4 linked regions of the Homo sapiens genome follow. The protein of the gene in region 1 interacts with the protein of each later gene in a biochemical or structural test. Each region holds a gene or a part of one and is shown on either strand. Other genes may lie near its edges.

What was found. Proteins that work in one complex are often made in the same cells at the same time.
Region 2: the proteins of CDC42 (region 1) and LARS1 form a complex in vitro, tested with the Homo sapiens proteins (one large-scale study listed by BioGRID).
Region 3: the proteins of CDC42 (region 1) and PHAX form a complex in vitro, tested with the Homo sapiens proteins (one large-scale study listed by BioGRID).
Region 4: the proteins of CDC42 (region 1) and CDC42EP3 form a complex in vitro, tested with the Homo sapiens proteins (2 studies listed by BioGRID).

Annotation. Positions count from the first base shown.
Region 1 is NC_000001.11:22,059,209-22,062,717, reverse strand, and holds part of CDC42 (cell division control protein 42 homolog isoform 1 precursor), read right to left. Parts: intron 1-3,509. UniProt on the Homo sapiens protein: Plasma membrane-associated small GTPase which cycles between an active GTP-bound and an inactive GDP-bound state. In active state binds to a variety of effector proteins to regulate cellular responses. Involved in epithelial cell polarization processes.
Region 2 is NC_000005.10:146,172,649-146,176,157, forward strand, and holds part of LARS1 (leucine--tRNA ligase, cytoplasmic), read right to left. Parts: intron 127-3,509; coding exon 39-126; intron 1-38. UniProt on the Homo sapiens protein: Aminoacyl-tRNA synthetase that catalyzes the specific attachment of leucine to its cognate tRNA (tRNA(Leu)).
Region 3 is NC_000005.10:126,603,940-126,607,448, reverse strand, and holds part of PHAX (phosphorylated adapter RNA export protein), read right to left. Parts: coding exon 3,266-3,509; intron 1-3,265. UniProt on the Homo sapiens protein: A phosphoprotein adapter involved in the XPO1-mediated U snRNA export from the nucleus.
Region 4 is NC_000002.12:37,665,141-37,668,649, forward strand, and holds part of CDC42EP3 (cdc42 effector protein 3), read right to left. Parts: intron 1-3,509.

The sequences.
Region 1 (3,509 bases):
GTCTCACTATGTTGACCAGGCTACCAGGCTCGTCTCAAACTGCTGGCCTCAAGCAATCCTCCCACCTAGGTCTCCCAAACTGCTGGGATTACAGGCATGAGCCACCATACCCAATCAGAAAAAAACTCTTAAGATCAGGCAACTTATGTTCTTATACATGCACCAAAAAGACAAATCTTTTCAGAATCAGCACAGAGTAATTTGGTCGTAAGTCTACAAGAATGAAATCATGCCAGCCTATATCAGAAATCCTAAACAAGCAGACATTTGCAGCATAAAATAAGTCACTACATTACCTAGGCAGCAAACGTGACAAATTCAGAACCTTTCTTTTAAAAGTTATGAGGTGAGATGCCAACTACAAAACAAACTATGATTATTTAGACTTTCTTTGTTCTAGCTGATGAGGTAGAAGTACCTACATTCAGATTCTCAAACAATTTGTCTTATAAACCACAAGCCATTTTTTAAATGGGTCAAACAGCCAGGCATGGAGGCTCACGCCTGTAATCCCAACACTTTGGGAGGCCAAGGCAGGCACATCATTTAAGGCCAGGAGTTTGAGACCAGCCTGGCCAACGTGGTGAAACCCCGTGTCTACTAAAAATACAAAAATTAGCTGGGTATGGTGGCACATGCCTGTAGTCCCAGCTACTCGGGAGGCTGAGGCAGAATTGCTTGAACCCAGGAGGCAGAGGTTGCAGTGAGCCAAGATCACGCCACTGCACTCCAGCCTGGGTGACAGAGTAAGAATCCGTTCTCCAAAAAAAAGAAATAAATAAAATAAAAAAGGGTGTTCCATAGGGGTGATGGGGAGGATGAAACGTCATCAAACAAGTTTAAGAAACATCAAGTTAGGCCGGGCGCAGTGGCTCACGCCTGTAATCCCAGCACTTTGGGAGGCTGAAGGGGGCGGATCACTTGAGGTCAGGAGTTCGAGACCAGCCTGGCCAACACGGTCTCCACTAAAGTGGAGATGGCCAACATCTCCACTAAAAATACAAAAATTAGCCGGGCATGGTGGCGGGCACCTGTAATCCCAGCTACTCAGGAGGGTGAGGCAGGAGAATTGCTTGAACCCGGGAGGCAGAGGTGGCAGTGAGCCAAGATCATGCCACTGCACTACAGCCTGGCTGATAGAGCAAGACTCCATCTCAAAAAAAAAAAAAAAAAAAAAAAAAAAAAGAAAGAAACATGAAGTTAAACTGATTGACCGTCTAACTTCCCTAACCCTTTAAAATAAACTTATATACATTATGATTTCCAGGATGAAGATATAATAAAGGGTTTCTTTTTTTTTTTTTTTCCTGAGACAGAGTTTTGCTCTTGTTACTCAGACTGAAGTGCAGTGGTGCAATCTCGGCTCACTGAAACCTCCACCTCCCGGGTTCAAGCGATTCTCCTGCCTCAGCCTCCTGAGTAGCTGGGATTACAGGCACATGCCACCACACCTGGCTAATTTTTTGTATTTTTAGTAGAGACGGGGTTTCACCATGTTGGCCAGGCTGGTCTCGAACTCCTGACCTCAGGTGATCCGCCCGCCATGGCCTCCCAAAGTGCTGGGATTACAGGCGTGAGCCACTCTGCCCGGCTGGGTTTCTAATTTATCTGACACCCAAGCCCATGGAAATGTCTTTCAGATATTCTGAAACACACTAAGCCACACAGGCCTTACTCTAAAATTATCCCCTACCCTCATCTTTACTAGCTTATCAACTATTAGGATGATCTAACATTTCCTTTGCCCCTATGATGAACAGAGCAAATAAACAGCACGAATAAAATAGCAAAATAAAAAAACACTGATATCCATAGAACTATCCTTTCAAGTTATAAACCAAACTTTACACATTCTAAAATCTAATCACTTATTTTAAAATCTTGTTAATCTTAAACCCTATAATAAAAATGTTTTTTAGGCAAGCAAGTGATATGAATGTATTAATTCCATTTCAGAATTTATCTAAAACTGAGTTCTTCTCCAATAGTATTCAGCTAATGAAACAAATACTAGTAAAGTTGTAATGAAAATCCCTGAAACCAGAGATAAGTGTTATTCAAGTAACATTATTCTTTCACTTCCCACTCCTCTTCATCTGCTTTTATATAGATTAAAAACAAACTAAAAATATTACAAATACTCCTAAACTGTCTTCCAGCAAAGCAAATGAACCATAGCTGAAATCTTGTTTATGCTTTCTTCTACTAAATTTATCCTCTTTTCTCATACCCCTTAACACTAATTAACATAATATTCTTTTATTCCACCTCCATCTCCCTCTGGTTTAATCATCTGTTCCTCATTTGATCTGTTCTCAGACACCTCTCCTCCTTCCACATGGAGTAATGAATTGCAATAATCTTTTTTTTTTTTAATTTTTTGAGACGGAGTCTCAGCTGTCACCCAGGCTGGAGAACAGTGGTGCATCCCCGCTCACTGCAGCCTCTGCATCCCAGGTTCAAGCGATTCTCGTGCCTCAGCCTCTCAAGTAGCTGGGATTACAGGTGCATGCCACCATGGCTAATTTTTGTATTTTTAGTAAAGACGGGGTTTCACCATGTTGGCCAGGTTGGTCTTGAACTCCAGCCCTCAGGTGATCTGCCTGCCTCAGCCTCCCAAAGTGCTGGGATTACAAGCATGAGCCACCGCACCCAGCCTACTGATAATCTTTCAATTGAAAAGGACGTAGATGGCTTCAAATGGCCACTTAAGACACAGAGAATGGACACAGGTAATAAACACAGGTGTTCCTGAGACACTGATCCCCCAGCTCTCAGGGATAGTCCTGGAGAATTTCTCCTACACCATATAGTTAAAGAAGGAAAAAGGAAATATCAGAGAAATAAATTCAATCTGGCCCTTGAAAAATAACAGGCTGGGAGCCGTGGCTCACGCCTGTAATCCCAGCACTTTGGGAGGCCAAGGCAGGCGGATCACCTGAGGTCAGAAGTTCAAGACCATCCTGTCCAACATAGTGAAACCCCGTCTCTACTAAAAATACAAAAATTAGCCAGGCATGGTGGTGTGCGCCTGTAATCCCAGCTACTTGGGAGGCTGAGGCAAGAGAATCGCTTGAACCTGGGAGGCAAGGTTGCAGTGAGCCAAGATCGTACCACTGCACTCCAGCCTGGGCAACAGAGCGAGAATTCTCAAAAAAAAGAAAAGAAAAATAGCAATAATTTTTTCAGGCGGGTAGCTGAAAAAGATGATTTTGGTTCTTAACATTTTCCCTTGAAATTGGAAATATGATTTTAGCAAAGAAAGCAGAAAACATGTTTACATTTGACAAGCTAAATGCCAAGTCTGTATTTCACCTAAGTTTTCATAATGAATATGAATTATCCTAATCATATGCTTAGACCATTCCTCGTCACCACAATTAGTTTTCAATAAAATGTCACTTAAGTTCAAATGTATAATTAAGGCCCCGTGCTGTGGTGGCACATGCCTGTAATCCCAGCTACTAGGGAGGTGGAGGCAGGAGAATCACTTGAACCTGGGAGGCGGA
Region 2 (3,509 bases), on another chromosome or scaffold:
CCTTCCTCCCCATTATAGCAAACATAGGGAAACATTACCTCACATTTGGATAAAGAAAACGTGTGTCCCAAATGAAGGCGTCCATTCATATATGGATATGGGAAGGTTACAAAATACTTGCCCTTGCTGCAAAACAACAGTATAAAAAAGAAAGTACAGAAGAATAAATGTTAAGTTCCTTTTACAATAAGGAAGTGGGGTGAAGGAAATGCTTGATATAAATAACTTAAGGTTATTTAAAAAATATTTAAAAGTAAATTTATAAATCTACAAATTTAAAACTCTCTAAAATTGAAAATTACTTTAGATTTACAAGAAATAAGACATTGATAGGTTGCTATTAAGAATTAAATAGCCTTGTAACAAATACTAGAGGTTTAATTTGAGCTAAAATACTTGAGTAAAGATAATATACTAGGTCAGGCGTGGTGGCTCACACCTGTAATCCCAACACTTTGGGAGGCCAAGGCTGGTGGACTGCTTGAGGCCAGGAGTTCGAGACCAGCCTGGGCAACATGGTGAAACCCTGTCTCTACTAAAAACTAGCCGGGCGTGATGGCGTGCGCTGATAATCCCAGCTACTCTAGTGGTTAAGCATGAGAATCAAGAATCGCCTGATCATTGAACCTGAGAGGCAGAGGTTGCAATGAGCTGAGATCATGCCACTGCACTCCAGCCTGGGCGAAAATGAGACTCCATCTCAAAAAAAAAAAAATTCTTTAATACCCTTATGAACCTAGGCTAATTTAATATTTTACTGAATAAATGAGATTTGTTTTCACTAGATACTAGATATATATATAAAGCAATTCAAAGTCCCTCAGGTAATATAAAACATCCTCAATATTACTTGATATGTGGTAGATTCACTTTAAACGCATCCTTTAAAGCTTTTTTTTTTTTTTTAATTTTTTAGTTGTTTTTGTAAAGACAGGGTTCTCAATATAAGAACCACCATGAGCATGAGCTCATGAGCCACCATGCTTGGTCTGTATTCTTTTTTCTTATGAAGAATATCTAACATACATACTGTGTTATGAAGCATAATAAAATGAACACTTGTAAACACACCATCTGACTTATGAATCCACTGAAACTACCTGTTTCCTCTCTACTGTCCCACAAGAGATAACCGACATTCTGAAATTTGCTTTTACCGTTCCCTTGTTTTTGAATAGTTTGCACACTTGGCAGCACCCTTAAACTATTTATCATTTAGTTTCGCTCACTTGTGAGTTTCATACAAAAAAAAGGCATACTTCATATAGACTTCTGCAATTTGCCTTCTTCACTTGACATTATATTACTTTCTTCAGTCTTACTGCATACACCTATAGTTAATTCTCTTTCACTAAACAAAGCAGCTTTTTCAGTTCACTTGTAATTATTTTAAATTACCTTAAAGTTAACCAAACCTCTAGAAGAAAATAGAAGCTTCAAATTATAGCTTCAAGTATAACACCAGAGACTATATTACAGCAATTTCTTTTTCTCTTAAAAAAAAAAAAAAAAAAAAAAGGCTGGGGCCTGGTGGCTCACACCTCTAATCCCAGCACTTTGGGAGGCGGAGGCGGGCGGATCACCTGAGGTTGGGATTTCAAGACTAGCCTAACGTGGAGAAAACCCGTCTCTAGTAAAACTACAAAATTAGCTGTGCGTGGTGGCGCATGCCTGTAATCCCAGCTACAGGGGAGGCTGAGGCAGGAGAATCGCTTGAACACGGGAGTCGGAGGTTGCGGTGAGCCGAGATCACACCATTGCACTCCAGCCTGGGCAACAACAGCAAAACTCTGTCTCAAATATATATATATATATCCATATATATATATATATATCCATATATATATATATCCATATATATATATATATATCCATATATATATATATATCCATATATGTATATATCCATATATATATATATCCATATATGTATATATCCATATATATATATATATATATCCATTAGAATATAGCTTAATAAGCAAGGAAAAAAGACTTTTGAATCAGAAAGTCCTAAAAACAAGCCCAGGCCCAGTCAATTCCCAGTGATGTAACCTTGAACTGGTTACTTAGCCTCTCTGTGCCTCAGTTTCCTCAGCTGTAAAAGAGAAATTTTAAAAGCTGTTAACCTTAAAGTATATTGAGAAGATTAAGGCCAGGCATGGTGGCTCAAACCTGTAATCCCAACACTTTGGGAGGCAAAAGTGGGAGGATTACTTGAGCCCAGGAGTTCAAGACTAGCCTGGGCAAGACAGTGAAACTTCATTTCTACAAAAGAAATTTTTTCAATGCTGGGTGCAGTGGCCCATGCCTATAATCCCGGCACTTTGGGAGGCCGGGGTGGGCAGATCACTTGAGCCCAGGAGTTGGGACCAGCCTCAGCAACATAACAAGACCCCATTTCTACTAAAAATAGAAAAATTACCTGGGTGTGGTGGCGTGCGCCTACAGTCCCACCTACTCAGGAGGCTGAGGTGAGAGGATCACCTGAGCCCAGGAGACAGAGGTTGCAGTGAGCTGAGATCACACAACTGCACTCCAGCCTGGGTGACAGAGGCTCGCTCCATCTGACACCACAGACTCTGTCTCCAAATTAAAAAAAAAAAAAAGATAATGGGCGGGCACAGTGGCTCACGCGTGTAATCCCAGCACTTTGGGAGTCGGAGGCAGGCGGATCATTTGAGTTTGAGACCAGACTGGCCAACATGGCAAAACCCCGTCTCTATTAAAAACAAAAATTAAAACTTAGCCAGGCGTGGTGGCATGCACCTGTAATCCCAGCTACTGGGGAGGCTGAGGCAGAAAAATCATTGAACCCGGGAGGCAGAGGTTGCAGTGAGCCGAGATCATGCCACTGCACCCAGCCTAGGCAACAGAGCAAGACTCCACCTCAAAAAAAAAAAAAAAAAGGCCGGGCGCAGTGGCTCACGCCTGTAATCCCAGCACTTTGGAAGGCCGAGGCAGGCAGATCACGAGGTCAGGAGATCGAGACCACAATGCAACCCCATCTCTACTAAAAATACAAAAAAATTAGCCGGGCATGGTGGCAGCCGCCTGTAGTTCCAGCTACTCAGGAGGCTGAAGCAGGAGAATGGCGTGAACCCGGCAGGCGGAGCTTGCAGTGAGCCGAGATTGCGCCACTGCACTCCAGCCTGGGTGACAGAGCAAGACTCCGTCTCAAAAAAAAAAAACAAAAACAAAAAAAATTAAAAGGTAAAATGAGGCCAGGAGTGATGGCTCATGTCTTATAATCTTAAGAGCTTTGAGAGGCCAAGGCAGAAGGATCACTTGAAGCCAGGAGTTTGAGACCAGCCTGGGCAACATAGCAAGACCCTGTCTCTAAGAAAAAACAAATTAGCCAGGCATGGTGGCGCATGCCTGTAGTCCCAGCTACTCAGAAGGCCGAGGAAGAAGGATTGCTTGAGCTCGGGAGTTTGAAGTTACAGTGAGCTATGACTGTGCCACTGCACTCCAGCTTGAATGACACAGCAAGACTTTGTCTAAAAAAA
Region 3 (3,509 bases), on another chromosome or scaffold:
CCAGCCTGGGCAACGAGAGTGAAACTCCGTCTCAAAAAAAAAAAAAAAAAAAAAAAAAAAGAATTCAGACCTGGCACCCTTTGTTTCTTCTCAACAGGAGGCAGTGCATTTTTGTGGAAAGAGAAATAGACTAGGAACACAAGGATCAGGGTTTAACTCCAGGTCTAATATTAATCTGTGAAATGAAGGTTTTGGTTTACAACATCTCTAAGTTTCTTTCCAGCACTCAAATTCCAAACTTCCCCAGTATTTTAAAAATCAAGTACTGGTGTTCAGATAGGCTTGCCTGGAAAGTAAATACTTGTTTTCCTACCACCTGCATTACTCTTGAACCGTATCTGTTTTCAAATTTATGACACTGTTCATTAGTAATTTAGAGCTAATGAAAATGTTAATTCAAAATCTGAACTTGGTAAAAATACATGAATTGTAAATTTACCATACACCAAGCAATTCTACTTCTGGGTATTTACCTGAAAGAAATGAAAATATGGCCAGGTGAGGTGGCTCATGCCTGTAATCCCAACACTTTGGGAGGTCGAAGGGGGTGGATCATCTGAGGTTAGAAGTTTGAGACCAGCCTGGTCAACAAGGTGAAACCCTGTCTCTACTAAAAATACAAAAAAAAAATTATCTGGGCGTGGTGGCGCACGCCTCTAATCCCGGCTACTAGGGAGGCTGAGGCAGGAGATTTGATTGAACCCAGGAGGCGGAGGTTGCAGTGAGCTGAGATCATGCCACTGCACTCCATCCTGGGCAACAGAGTGAGACTCTGTCTAAAACAAAACAAAAGAAAACAAAGATATGAAAATATGTGTTTAAAGATCTGGATGTGAAGGTTCATAACAGCATTATTCATGATAGCCAAAAAGTAGAATATTCAATATGAATATATGCATATATACACACACTATAAAAATGTATTGATTCCTGCTACACCATGGATCAATCTCAAAAACACAACATTGGCTGGGCACAGTGGCTTACGCCTCTAATCCCACCACTTTGGGAGGCTGAGGTGGTCTGGAGTTCGAGACCAGCCTGGCCAACATGGCGAAACCCTGTCTCTACTAAAAAATATAAAAATTAGCTGGGCGTTGTAGCACATGGCTGTAATTCCAGCTACTCACGAGGCTGAGGCATGAGAATTGCTTGAACCCAGGAGGCGGAGGTTGCAGTGAGCTGAGATCGTGACACTGCACTCCAGCCTGGGCAACAGAGTGACACTCTGTCTCAAACAAACAAACAAACAATCAAAAAAACAAACCACACACACAAAAAAACAAAAACAAAAACAAACAAAAACATAACATTAGCTGACAGAAGCAAGGCACGAGATTACATACTACATGACACCATTTATATGAAATATCCAAAAAAGGCAAATTTATAGACAGAAAGTAGATTAGCAGTTATCTGGGAATGAGAACAGGGATTAACTATAAACTGGCATGTGGACATAAGGGATCTTACTGGGTGACAGAAATGTTTCAGAGGTGATGGTTATACAACTTGATATGTTTCCTAAAAAAATTAACACTAGAAATGGGTGAATATTATCTGTAAAATATACCTCAAAGTTAAGAAAAAAGTCACAAATTCTTGAAAACACTAAACAAACAAAAACAACCCATGATTTAAAAATATATGCTTTATTTAAAAAGCTCTATGGCACTAAATGCAACAAGTTGTTTAACAGTTCATAAAAGTCTACAAAATTATTCTATCAGGCTTGTCCAAATTTAAGAAAACACAGTGGGTGCGCAGCTCACGCCTATAATCCCAGCATTTGGGAGGCCAAGGCAGGCAAATCACTTGAGGCCAGGAGATCGAGATCAGTCCGGCCAACATAATGAAACCCTATCTCTACTAAAAATACAAAAAAAAAAAAATTATTTGGGTGTGGTGGCGAATGCCTATAGTCCCAGCTACTCAGGTGGCTCTCTCACGTTCAAGCAATTCTCATGAGGGGACGTTGCAGTGAGCCAGGATACCACCACTGCACTCCAGCCTGGGTGACAGAGCAAGACTGTCTCATAAACAAAAAACCAACAGAAAAATACATTACGAATGTATTCATATAACCAAATTATCCCAGTTCCTTAAAGAAAAATTTTCAAAGACTCAGGTACAGTGGCTCACACCTATAATCCCAGCAATCTGGGAAGTTGAGGCAGGAGGATTGCTTAAGCCCAGGAGTTCAGCTTCAATGAGCTCTGATTGTGCTACTGCACTCCAGCTGAGTGACCAGAGCAAGACCATCTCTTAAAAAAAAAAAAAAATCTGTGGACAGCGCAGTGGTTGATGCATATAATCCCAGCACTTTGGGAGGCCAATGTGGGAGGACTGCTTGTTCCCAGGAGTTTGACACCAGCCTGGGCAACACAGTGAAACTCCTAATTTTTTTTTTTTTCTGAGATGGAGTCTAGTTCTGTCACCCAGGCTGGAGTGCAGTGGCACAATCTCGGCTCACTGCAACCTCCGCCTCCCGGGTTCAAGTGATTCTCCTGCCTCAGCCTCCCGAGTAGCTGGGATTACAGGCGCCCACTACCACGCCCAGCTAATTTTTGTATTTTTAGTAGAGATGGGGTTTCACTGTGTCGGCCAGGCTGGTCTTGAACTCCTGACCTCATGATCCACTCACCTCAGCCTCCCAAAGTGCTGGGATTACAAGCATGAGCCACTCTGTCTGGCCATAATTTTTTTTTTTTAATTGGCCAGGCATAATGGCCTGAGCCTGTAGTCCCAGTTACTCAGGAAGCTGAGGTGGAAGGATCCTTTCAGCCCAAGAGTTCTAGGTTCCAGTGAGGTGTGATTGCAGCACTGCACTCCAGCCTGGGCAAGAGTGAGATCCTTTCTCAAATAAATAAATAAATAAATAGATTAGGCCAGCCCATGGCTCACGCCTGTAATCTCAGCACTTTGAGAGGCAAAGGCGGGTGGATCCCTTGAGCTCTGGAGTTCGAGAGTAGCTTGGACAACATGGCAAGACCCTGTCTCTATTAAAAATACAAAGAATAGCTGGGCGTGGGGGTGCATACCTGTGGTCCCAGCTATTCAGGAGGCTGAGGTAAGAGAATCCCTTGAGCGAGGAGGCGGAGGTTGCAGTGAGTAACTGCACTCCAGCCTGGGTGACAGAGCAAGACCCTGTCTCCAAAAAAAAAAAAAAAAAAAGGAACATATCATTAAAGTATTTGGCATTCATTTTATTTCCTGTAAATAGAAGCCATCTGGTCAAGTACTTATTTGTAATTCAAATGCTCACCTGAATGAAATTTCATCAGCCACTTTCTCTTGAGAATCTTCCGCTGTGATCTCGTATCGACCTTTATAGTTCATTTCTGGTCTGTTCCCTAGCCTGTCTTTGACAGGTCGTTTCCTTTTGAGATGACCTTGCCCATTTTCCTCTTCCTTTGATCCCATTTTTTTGCCACCATGCATATATTCATCTAGTTCCTTGTCTAGATCTTTTGTATGCTCTTGAGATTCCTTCCTAAGTTTCTTGGCAA
Region 4 (3,509 bases), on another chromosome or scaffold:
AGATAACTTAAATGTAGTAAGTGTTACAATAGGAGAAGATACAAGACACTATGGAAATGCCTCTGATACAAGAAAAAAGAGGAACAGAATCACAGTTTAGGGCCAGGAGAGGGCCTGGGGAACATCCACACACTTCTCTGGCCTCCCTTCCCATCCCCACCCTCCCACTCTGCCATTTTTTTTCACAGGTGATGGGATGGAGCCTGCCCAGAGAAGGGGAAGGATTTGTTTTCTGACTAGCTGGTCAGCCAAAGGCTTAGAGCCTCATCTCCCGCTGTGTTAAAATCAATGTTTTAAGTCTGAACTGACCCTTGGCAAAACAAAAGTTTAAAAAATAAATAAAAAGGTTGAGAAATCAAACACATTCTGAATGGCAAAGCCACATTTCACCAAAAATGCCTCTGCTTGTTTTAAAAAATGTATGTAGCCTAAATGATTATGATGTATTTGGACAGAAAAGCTCTTTTTCAACTAAACTCATGACAACGATCTATCATTGGCATGATGTGTCTACAAATAGGACCTTCAGGTTGTCACCAGAACATGACGGATTCCCAAATGTGGAAGCTGTCTAAATAGAGGCCTGACTTGGAAGTTCCCTGCCTTCCACGCTTGCTCAGGCTGCTCTGCCAGAGATCTGCACGGGTCTGTTTTTCAACCCAGAGTCTTACATTATTAGTAGTAAGATAGCTATGCTAATAGGTGCCACTGATCCTGGCTCACTGTTCTGGAGCCAGAGATTATCTGAGATCATCTCTCACCAAATGCTACGTTTTAGGGATGAGAACAAGAAAACCCCAAGAGGTCAAGGTTATACAATTTGGGTCAGAGCTAAGACCAGAATTGGTATTTTTTTAATCTCTATTTCTACACACAGACACCCCTTTTGATTGCCCTCACTTAATTCTCCATTAGTTTTATCAGCGTTTGCCAGGATCTCCTGGTACATCCTCATCGCTCTCTTCCTGTAACGCCTGTGGTTCTCTAACTAAAATGTCCCTGGGTTGCTTCGGCTCTGTAGGACATACTGCGGTTATGTAGCTTCTGTTCTGTGTTTCCCAGAGTGTGTTTCCTGCCAGGCTGGTCCTGCAGCTGCTCAGTGGGCAAAACCATTTGAGAAACTCTGGACACGACCTCCCTGTGGAGATTCACTATATACACTGGCTTTTTAAATGTTCTGAGAAGTCCTGCAGAAAGGGACCTTCATCAAACTGGGGTCCCACAGAATACTTTTATGACATTCATGGCTCGAGGTACACTTTAGGCGGTACCCTGTTACCTAATTGCAGGTGTGTGATCTCTGCAACATGGTTTAACAAAGGGCCAAAGGCTAGAAGGCTAATAATAACTTTATCCAATATGGAAATAAAACCCAATCCACTGAAAATCCTTTTTAAAAAGTTTTAAATTTGGGATTCTAGAATTCTATTAATTCATGACTTAGGCAAGCAGTAAGGACTAAGCAAACACTAGTTTGGAACTCATCAGCTTTCACACAGTTTACTTGGCTATTTAGAAATAGTAATCTTTTAAATCTCAGCATCATGCTTTGTATTATAAAACTGTATGGTTAAAATTTGAAAACTGCTTTTCTACCAGAGGTACTGTCAAATTCAGTCCATCATCATGTGATTCTGATGAAACTTGGCACTGAAGTATATCAAGGAGAAAGCTTTTTTTTTTTTTTAAGGAAAGAAACACACCTGACTATTGCTTTAGAACTACATGGCTACTTATTCTGGTTTGTGGGGTATTGTTTTGTTTTGTAGCCTTTAAGAGGTGGGGACAGGAGAAGATTTCAAATGGAATTGGACAGCTCCAAGACTGTAACCATTGGCTTTGAGGCTACCTGAGTTACTTCGGACTGTCCTTTCCAGAACCCTGTTTCCATCTGAGAAGTCTCTGGAGCTGATCCCCACAGCTAATCACAAACCCAGAGCATCAAAGCAGTGGAGGCCAAGGCAGGCCCTGTGGGTTTTCCGGGGCAAGCAGTAAGGACAAGGTTTCAAAGGTTTCCTTGTTGTGTGTTTCTTATCTAGCAGGGCCCAGGGGATATGCTGAACTGTAACAGGGCTTGACTTCTGCCATGGACACAGCCCAGTGCCTTTCTGTTCACTTTACCTGTAGCTCCTCTTCTGCTGAGTTCTTGCAGCAACATCATCAACAAACATGGACTAAAACGTCCACTGAGTGCCGGGACTGAAGGCCCAGGTAGTGTGGTTCCTGCCTTCAAGGAGGGGATTGTCCACAGGTGGTTACTGGACTCTGCAACCCCGGGCTCCCCAGAATTTTGAAGCGAGCACACAGTCTATGCTAGAGCTTCACTTCATCCCCAGCCACCAGAAGTCCTTGTCCCTGGCTGTGGCTTGGCTTGCTTTCTCACCATATAGTCCCACATTTTCACCTAGTAAATCTCTTCGTTTATGGCATAAATTAAACTGCTTATGTTAACCCTAGCAGTGTTCATGCTAGATCCACTTTCATGCCACATATGTGGGATTGAATCATCTTTAATAATAAAATAATTTACATAGTGTTCCTCAAGGCTGGCAATTACTGTCATCTTCAACTGTGAGATACAGGGTGATATGAAATTATTTCCTTGCCAGAGGCCAAAAGTCATAACAAAAATCAGATTTAACAACTTCTCTGCCCCTCCTCCCCATTGGTGGGGGTGTGGTATTTAGTATAAGGTCAAAAAGACCTGAGTTCAAACCCTGCTTCTGCTATTTAGCTGTGTGACCTTGGCCACGTTACTAAACCTTTCTGAGCCTGTGTTCTCATCTGGAAAAGAAGAGCAATATAATAGTCTGCCTTATCCTCCACGGATATGTTCCAAGACCCCCAGTGGGTGCCTGAACCTTGGACAGTACTGAACCCCATATATACTATGTTGTTTTTTATACATACATACCTGTTATAAAGTTTAATTTGTAAAGTAGGCACAGTAAGAGATTAACAATAGAATAATTATAACAATGTAATAAAAATTACATGAATATGGTCTCTTTCTTTCTTAAAATGCCCCATATTCACCTATTTTCAGACCATGGTTGACTATGGGTAACTGAAACCCTGGAAAAGAAAACCACGGGTAATTGGGGACCACTGTACTATCTCTCTCAAAGAATAGTTATGAATATTACATGACAGAACCAGTATTAAGTACCTAGGAAAAAAACAAAAGCAACATTGAAAACCTCAACCTTTTATTGTGGCTACTCTGGGCCAGGCACTGTTCTGAGTACATAATCTTTTTTAACTCCTTTAATCCTCAGGGAAATAATATTATCTCCATTTTACAAAGGATAAACTGAGGTAAAGGTGAGGTAACTTGCCCAAAGTCACACAGGTGTTAAGTGCCAGAACTAGGACATGTGCCCAGGCAGCCTGACTCGGAGGCTTCAGAAGTTCAGTTTTTTTTCCCATCCCCTTAACCCAAAGAGCTGCTGACTTTCACATAGGATTAGCCACTCATGCCTGCACATATTGTGTTGTTAAACTGCACA